Linked DNA regions of Homo sapiens: region 1 is linked to region 2. Evidence: fine-mapped expression QTL. A gene starts in region 2. The other region holds a variant in brackets. All regions are shown on one strand. Distances are from middle to middle. Region 1 holds the start of MIR1285-2 (microRNA 1285-2). Region 2 holds the start of SNRPG (small nuclear ribonucleoprotein polypeptide G).

Region 1 (4,525 bases), 41 kb before region 2:
GGTTTTGCCATGTTGGCCAGGCTGGTCTTGAACTCCTGACCTCAGGTGATCTGCCTGCCTTAGCCTCCCAAAGTGCTGAGATAACAGACGTGAGCCGCTGCCCCCAGATGGAACATTCATTTTATGGACTATTTTGCAGTTATTGAAAAGCTATTAATCAGATCTGTAGTGTTGAACTGGAAAATATCTATGATGTAAGTTTATTTAAGTTGTAGAAATATTTTTTAAACATAGGAGAATTTACACATCGAAAAACGTGATGTCGGCTGAGCGGGGCGGCTCACGCCTGTAATCCCAGTCTTTGGGAGACCGAGGCAGGCAGATCACTAGAGCTCAGGAGTTCAAGACCAGCGTGGCCAACATGGAGAAACCCCGTCTCTACTTTAAAATACAAAAATTAGCCAGATGTGGCGGCACATGTCTGTAATCCCGGCTACTCGGGAGGCTGAGGTAGGAGGAGAATCACTTGAACCCGGGAGTCGGAGGTTGCAGTGAGCCCCTGGGCCACAGAGCAAGACTCCTCAAAAACAAAACAAAACACCAAAAAAACAAAAACGTGATGTCCTCTTTAAAGTAGTTTCTTCAGACTGTATACATTCTGGATTTTTCATTTTTGGAATTGTCTTTAGAGTCTCTGACACATTCTTCAGATTATTTTCAAAGATATCAAGTACTAGTCTTTTGATGGTGAATAAAACAAATGTTAATGGGGATGGTGTTTTAAAAACACCTTTTTGGGACATCCATATAAAGTGTTTTTCAGTTTAATGGTTTTTAGTTTATTCACAGAGGTGTGTGTGCAACAATCACCACAATCAATTTTATAACATTTTCTTCACCTCAAAAAGGAAACCCGTAGCAATTAGCAGACACTCCCTGTCCCTCATCCCATTCCATGTCCCAGCCACTAGTCTTTCTGCCCCTATAGATTTGCCTATTCTAGACATTTCATATAAATGGAAGCATGTAATATATGGTTTCTTGTAACTGACTTATTTCACTTAACATTATGCTTTTCAGGGTCATCTATGTTGTAACGTGTATCGGTACTTCATTCCTTTTTATTCCCAAATAAAACTCCATTATATGGATATTGCACAAGTACTTTTTTTAAAGTAGTTTTTAAGTTACAAAAGTACAACGTGCTTAGTGTTACAAATGAAATGAAATGGATACATAAGGAAAATATTAAAAATGTATCTTCTTCCTCCTTTTGAGGTAAGTAATATTAATAGATTCATCTGTAATATTCCACATTTTACTCTATACAGATGCACATGTATACACTTGGGATTTTTAGGGTTTTTTTTTTTGTTTTTTGTTTTTTTTTTACAGAGTGTCACCCAGAGTGACAGTGTCTTGGCTCACTGTGAACTCTGTCTCCTGGGCTCAAGCGTTTCTTGTGCCTCAGCCTCCAGAGTAGTTGGGATTACAGGTGTGAGCCACCACACCTGGCTAGTTTTTTTTTTTGAGACAGAGTTTCGCTCTTGTTGCCCAGGCTGGAGTGCAATGGCATGATCTCGGCTCACTGCCACCTCCACCTCCCGGGTTCAAGCGATTCTCCTGCCTCAGCCTCCCGAGTAGGTGGGATTACAGGCATGTGCCACCATGCCCGGCTAATTTTATATTTTTAGTAGAGATGGGGTTTCTCCGTGTTGGTCAGGCTGGTCTTGAATTCCTGACCTCAGATGATCTGCCTGCCTCGGCCTCCCAAAGTGCTGGGATTACAGGCGTGAGCCACCATGCCCGGCCTAATTTTTTTTTATTTTTAGTAGAGACAGGATTTCACCATGATGGCCAGGCTGGTCTCAAACTCCTGACTTCAAATGATCCACCCGCCTGATCTCAGCTCACTGCAACCTCTGCCTCCCAGGTTCAAGCGATTTTCCTGCCTCAGCCCGCCTAGTAGCTGAGATTACAGGCGTGGGCCAGCATGCCCCGCTAATTTTTGCATTTTTTAGTAGAGATGGGGTGTCACCATGTTGGACTGTCTGGTCTCAAACTCCTAACCTCAAGTGATCCGCCCACCTTGGCCTCCCAAAATGCTGGGATTACAGGTGTGAGCCACTGCGCCGGGCTTTTTTTTTTTTTTTTTTTTTTGAGACAGGGTCTCGCTCTGTTGCCCAGGCTGGAGTGCAGTGGCAATGATGTCAGCTCACTGCAGCCTCTGCCTCCAGGCTCAGGTGTTCCTGCTACCTTAGCCTCCTGAGTAGCTGGGACTACAGGCACGTGCCACCATGCCTGGCTAATTTTTTTTTTTTTTTGAGATAGAGTTTCACTCTTGTTGCCCAGGCTGGAGTGCAATGGCTCGATCTCAGCTCACTGCAACCTCCACCTCCCGGGTTCAAGCAATTCTCCTGCCTCAGCCTCCTGAGTTGCTGGGATTACAAGCGCCTGCCACCACACCCGGCCAATTTTTGTATTTTTAGTAGAGATGGGGTTTCACCATATTGGCCAGGCTGGTCTCGA[A/T]TTCCTGACCTCAGGTCATCCGCCTGCCTCGGCCTCCCAAAGTGCTGGGATTACAGGCATGAGCCACCATGCCCGGCCCACGCCCAGCTAATTTTTGTATTCTTTGTAGAGACGGAGGTCTCACTTTGTTGCCCAGATTGGTCTCAAATTGCTGGGCTCAAGTGATGCACCAGCCTCGGCCTCCCAAAATGCTGGAATTACAGGTGTGAGCCACTGCGCCCAGTCCTGGCCTAATAGTTTTTTAATAGTTGCAAAATCGTCCATAAAATGAAAGTTCCCCAATGTATTGAATGGTAAATTGAATAAATTACCATAACTGGCATTGATGGATATTCAGGTTACTACTTTTCAAAAACCTATTGTATTACAAATAATGTTGCAGTTGTATCCTGGTACATGTACCTTTTTTTTTTTTTTTTTTTTTTTTGGAGGTTGGGGGGCAGAGTCTCACTCTGTGCCCAGACTGGAATGCAGTACCACAATCACTGCTCACCTCAGCCTCTACCTCCCAGGCTCAGGTGATCCTCCTGCCTCAGCCTCCTGAGTAGCTGGGACTACAGGTGCACACCACCATGCCAGGCTAATTTTTTTGTATTTTTTCGTAGAAACGGGGTTTCGCCATTTTGCTCAGGCTGGTCTCGAACCCTGGGCTCAAATCGTCCGCCTGCCCTAGCCTCCCAAAGTGCTGGGATTACAGGTGTGAGCCACTGAGCCCAGCCTCTTTCTCCAAGTTTAACTTTATTTTGTATCCAACCTATTTTCTTCTCATCTATATTGTTCTTCATGTTCATGTACTAGTTATTTTTGTTTGTTTGTTTGGGTGAAGTATTGTAATTACAGAAATGAGACTTTTTTTTTTTAAATGAAAGGCCTCACATATTTATTACTGAACCCAGCCAACCAATGCGTTCATAACAGATTCGGAGAGGAAAACACGTCGAACTCTCCAGATAGGGGTGACATTTTCAGCTTGATATGGTAACGTGATCGTGACCTTCAGACAGCATAAATATGTGTGCCATCTCATGTACAATTCCTTATAGACCCAGCTTGGTTCTTCTCCAATGTCTCCTTTTGGAGTTGTACCTGATTTTATTTCCAGTTTTCATCCGAATCCACTGGGGAATGGGACGATTTTGCTTTTGTTTCTTGGGCAGGAATCACTTAATCCTGAAAGTCTTGTGAGAAGACATGGTGAGGGTGGAGTCAAGAACACACCACGATGGCAGAGAAAGGAAAAGAGGCATGAGATCATTTTATACCCATCATGCAACCACAAGCTTTTCTCAACTGATAATACTAGGACATTAGTTATAGACCCATTTTTTTTTTTTTTGAGACGGAGTCTCACTCTGTCGCCCAGGTTGGAGTGCAGTGGCGTAATCTTGGCTCACTGCAGCCTCTGCCTCCTGGGTTCAAGCAATTGTCCTGTCTCAGCGTTCCTGAGTAGCTGGGATTACAGGTGTGCGCTACCACGCCTGGCTGATTTTTATATTTTTAGTAGTAGAGACAGGGTTTCACCATGTTGACCAGCCTGGTCTCAAATTCCTGACCTCAGGTGATCTGCCTGCTTCAGCCTCCCAAAGTGCTGGGATTACAGGTGTGAGCCACTGCGCCAAGCTCCAACATTCTTTTTTTGTAATTTTTTTTTTTTTTGAGATCAGCCTGTCAGGTTGGAGTGCAGTGGTGCAATCTCAGCTCACTGCAACCTTGGCCTCCCAAGTTCAAGTGATTCTCCTGCCTCAACCTCCCAAGTAGGTGGGATTACAGGCATGCATCACCACGCCCAGCTAATTTTTGTATTCTTAGTAGAGGCAGAGTTTTGCCACGTTGGCCAGGCTGGTCTTGAACTCCTGACCTCAGATATTCTGCCTGCCTTGGTCTCCCAGAGTGCTGGGATTACAGGCGTGAGCCACCGTGCCTGGCTTCCTTTTAATGCATGCATAATGTTCTATTGTATGGTATGTTGGGGAGAAAAAAAGAGTTTTCCTCTACCCTTCCGAGGTTTTGGTTGTGATAGACCCCTGTAACAAAAGACAGATTAACAAGAAGAAAA
Region 2 (4,000 bases):
TGGTGTAAAAGAAGATGCTATCTGTGAGAAAGCAGAGGAAGAAAAAATTTTTAAGTCATTTTGGCGGCAGATCTGACCGGATTTCACAATTCATGAAACCTACGAGGAAGAGAAAGGTATTAAAACTAGCTTCCTTCTCTGAAATTTTCAAAAACTATGTTATGAATCAGAAAGAAAATCTTAGATTACAAGTAGAGAATGGTCTTTTTGTTAAAAAAAAAAAAATCACCATTTCACCAGTCCCTGATGAATCCAGAGGATACTTACATCACCAAAAATAACTTTCAGATAAAAAGAGTAATTTTCACAATAATTTCTGAGTAACTTCTATTTTTTTTTTTTTTTTTGAGACGGAGTCTCGCTCTGTTGCCCAGGCTGGAGTGCAGTGGCGCGATCTCGGCTCACTGCAAGCTCCGCCTCCCGGGTTCACGCCATTCTCCTGCCTCAGCCTCCCGAGTAGCTGGGACTACAAGCGCCCGCCACCAAGCCCACGTAATTTTTTGTATTTTTATAGACACGGGGTTTCACCGTTTTAGCCATGATGATCTCCATCTCCTGACCTCGTGATCCGCCCGCCTCGGCCTCCCAAAGTGCTGGGATTACAGGCGTGAGCCACCGCGTTGGGCTTATGTTTTAATAATTAATTCCTTAACAGACCTAACTAAAATATACATAGAAGTAGTTTTCATACAAAAGATGGCTTTGATACAAATGGACCTTTAAATGCAAAAATATTATTATTTTTTGAAACAGAGTTTCGGTCTTGTTACCCAGGCTGGAGGGCAATGGCGCGATCTTGACTCACTGCAACCTCCGCTTCCCGGGTTCAAGCGATTCTCCTGCCTCAACCTCCGGAATAGCTGAGACTACAGGCGCACACCACCTGCCTGGCTAATTTTTTGTATTTTTAGTAGAGACGGGGGTTTCACCATGTTGGCCAGGCTGGTCTCGAACTCCTGACCTCAGGTGATCCTCCCGCCTCAGCCTCCCAAAGTGCTGGGATTACAGGCGTGAGCCACTGTGCCCGGCCGCAAAATTATTAAATAGGAACTTTACCTTTTGTCTGACTTCCATGGGCCTGGTAATAAATGAACTAACTATACACAAAGCCAACCACATGCTACGCCAGAAAAAACTGATCCCTGTAAAAATTTTGCATCCTTTGTGCAATCCAACTAATACATGTAGAATTCCAGCATCAGGAAGTATAAGCAAAACAGAAACGTAGTCAGGAAACACATAACCTGTTAAGTCCACTCAAAAAGTATTTGAGGAATTCAAAGCTTTACGTTGAGTCCTACCTAAAGTAAGGCTCTCCTACTTAAAGTTGTTTGACTTTACTGGGTGTGTAGAAAAAACTTCAAAAAATTAGCCTTCTCTGACTAGAAAAAATTAATGTTCTTAAAAAAAAAGAAAAATGAATGTTCTTATATAGTTTCAACATCAGAGCAAGATAACACATGACATTCAAGCTTAACGTAAAAGAAGGCAAGAAAAAGGAATGAGGTTTCTAAGTAAAAGCTCAAACACCTACAAACACATTTGCTAAGACTAAAGTGGCTTTCGGATTCTGATGCCTCACGTAGTTTTAAAAACACTTCCTTCCCTTCCAGCCCCTCCTTAGTTCCTTCAGAGAATTTCCCCCTCTAGCCGTCTATCTAGAACATGATACTATTCGAGATGTTCAACAAAAGGTAGCACTGGAGATCTTCAAGGAACGAGGGACAGCGCCGGGTGACCAGGGGCCAGACCGCGGGACCTGGAGACTAGTCGGCCGGAAGGAGGTGCCGTGGCTGCCGGCTGTAACCACACCGACGCGCGAGCTCTGCGCGGGCTTCACGTCTCATGCGCGGGAGCCTGGCCGGGATCCCGGCGACCTCGGACCGGAAGAAGAAATGAAGTGAAGCGGCTCAAGACATTCGGCTAACGGAGAGGGAACCAAGGGACTCGCAGGACGCAAATAACTGACCACTTCGGTTTGGCTCTCACACATACTTACTTTTTCAACTCGGGAGGGTGAGCTTTGCTCATGGTGTATACTCCGCGGGCTCACAGATGCCTTGGAACGCAACGCACGGCTTTCCTCACGCTCCCGCTGTAGGCCCGGCGTCTTGCGTCTGGCGTCATCGACCTCGTTAGCCAATGGATTGTTGGCAGTTTTTACATTTCACCTCGCGATATCTCAGCGCCTCGGTCATCGTTGAGCTTCCGGTTATGTCCTCAGCGATTGGCCAGGACGGAGGGGTGCGTCCTCTAGGCACCTTTCTGAATTCCGTTTTCCTTGTACAAAATTGAGATAACGGGTATTCCACCGGTGGGTATCCCTGCTCTTTTTCTTTTCTTTTTGAGACGGAGTCTAGCTCTGTCGCCCAGGCTGGAGTGCAGTGGCGCGATCTCGGCTCACTGCAAGCTCCGCCTCCCGGCCTCACGCCATTCTCCTGCCTCAGCCACCCGAATAGCTGGGACTACAGGCGCCCGCCACCATGCCCGGCTAATTTTGTGTATTTTTTAGTAGAGACGGGGTTTCGCCGTGTTAGCCAGGATGGTCTCGATCTCCTGACCTCGTTATCCGCCCGCCTCGGCCTCCCAAAGTGCTAGGATTACAGGCGTGAGCTACCGCGCCCAGCCGGTTATCCCTGCTCTTGTCTATGGAACAGCCAAAATAAATAAAAATAAATAAATAAATAAAAAAAGCCGGGCGCCGTAAATCCCAGAACTTTGGATCTCTTGAGCCCAGGAGTTCGAGACCAGCCTGTGCAACATAGCGAGACCCCTTCTCTATTTAAAAAATAAAATTGAGATATTGAGATAACGGTCCCGTCTCTAGCTCCTGGGCAAACCCGGCCAATCCCGCATGTCTGTGGATCGTATCGCTTATTTTCTTCATATATACCAATATACCAAATGATAATGATCCCTGGAGGAATGGGCCTCTCTCTATATATGTATATTTTTTTGAGACGGAGTCTTGCTCTGTCGCCCAGGCTGGAGTGCAGTGGCGCGATCTCGGCTCACTGCAAGCTCTGCCTCCCGGGTTCACGCCATTCTCCTGCCTCAGCCTCCCGAGTAGCTGGGACAACAGGTGCCCGCCACCACGCCGGGCTGATTTTTTGTATTTTTAGTAGACACCGTATTTCACTGTGTTAGCCAGGATGGTCTTGATCTCCTGACCTCGTGATCCGCTGGCCTCGGCCTCCCAAAGTGCTGGGATTACAGGCGTGAGCCCCCGCTCCCGGCTGGGCCTCTATATTTTTTTGGCAGGTAACCCTACAGCATACTGTCAGACCAAGTAGGGTTCCCGTAACATGTAAATTAGCAGCCTCTGAACCATTGTAGAGTAAGGTGACTGGGTCTGTCTCCAAGAATTTGAATCTATTTCTGACTGAGGGGTCTTGCAAAAAAAATTTTTTTTGAGATGAGTTCTTGCTCTGTCGCCTAGGCTGGGGAGCATGGTGTGATCATGGCTCACTGCAACCTCGAACTCCTGGCCTCAAGCAATCCTTCCACCTCAGCCTCCTGAGTTGTTGAGACTACAGGCGCACGCCACTGCACCCAGCTAATTTTTTTTTGTAGAGACGAGGTCTTGCTTTGTTGCCCAGGCTGTTCTCAAATTCCTGGCCTCAAGAGATCTGCCTGCCTCCGGCTCCCAAAGTGCTGAGATTACAGGGGTTAGCCAGCATGCCTGGGAATTCTGAAATTTTTCAAACACTACCTCCAGAACTCACTGATGTGCTATTGCCCCTGTATATAAAATGTGAAGTGCAGCACACAAACATTTTCTAATATAAGGTGTTCTTTTTTCATGTCAAGATGTGTAAAAAGTGGTCTCGGACTTGTTCCCAGTTGTTACCCCAAAATTATAGAAGACTAAACCAAAATAGAATACCTTGTGTTTAAATAGGGGATAGTTCTCAAAAATTCAGTTAATTCCTGATATTCTGGAATGGCTCTATATAAATATCAATGATAGTAAAGACTTAAACTCATCACATATTTTGCA

Evidence for each region. PIP is the estimated chance that this variant, and not a neighbour inherited with it, causes the effect. A credible set is the group of variants that fine-mapping cannot tell apart.
Region 1: its variant is the best candidate, but not a certain one, in a credible set for the expression of SNRPG in whole blood (INTERVAL, PIP 0.59).

The regions. Positions count from the first base shown.
Region 1 is chr2:70,250,349-70,254,873 of GRCh38, forward strand. MIR1285-2 (microRNA 1285-2) reads right to left here and starts at 2,657; the gene lies at 2,570-2,657. It also overlaps the pseudogene RPL39P15. The variant A/T (reference allele first, on the strand shown) is at 2,470.
Region 2 is chr2:70,291,619-70,295,618 of GRCh38, forward strand. SNRPG (small nuclear ribonucleoprotein polypeptide G) reads right to left here and starts at 2,122. Exons shown (of 4, transcript NM_003096.4): 1 at 2,000-2,122. The coding sequence starts at 2,031. LOC124906023 (a long non-coding RNA gene) reads left to right here and starts at 2,284. Exons shown (of 2, transcript XR_007086880.1): 1 at 2,284-2,314; 2 at 3,440-4,000. RefSeq lists enhancers at 880-1,787, 1,804-2,283.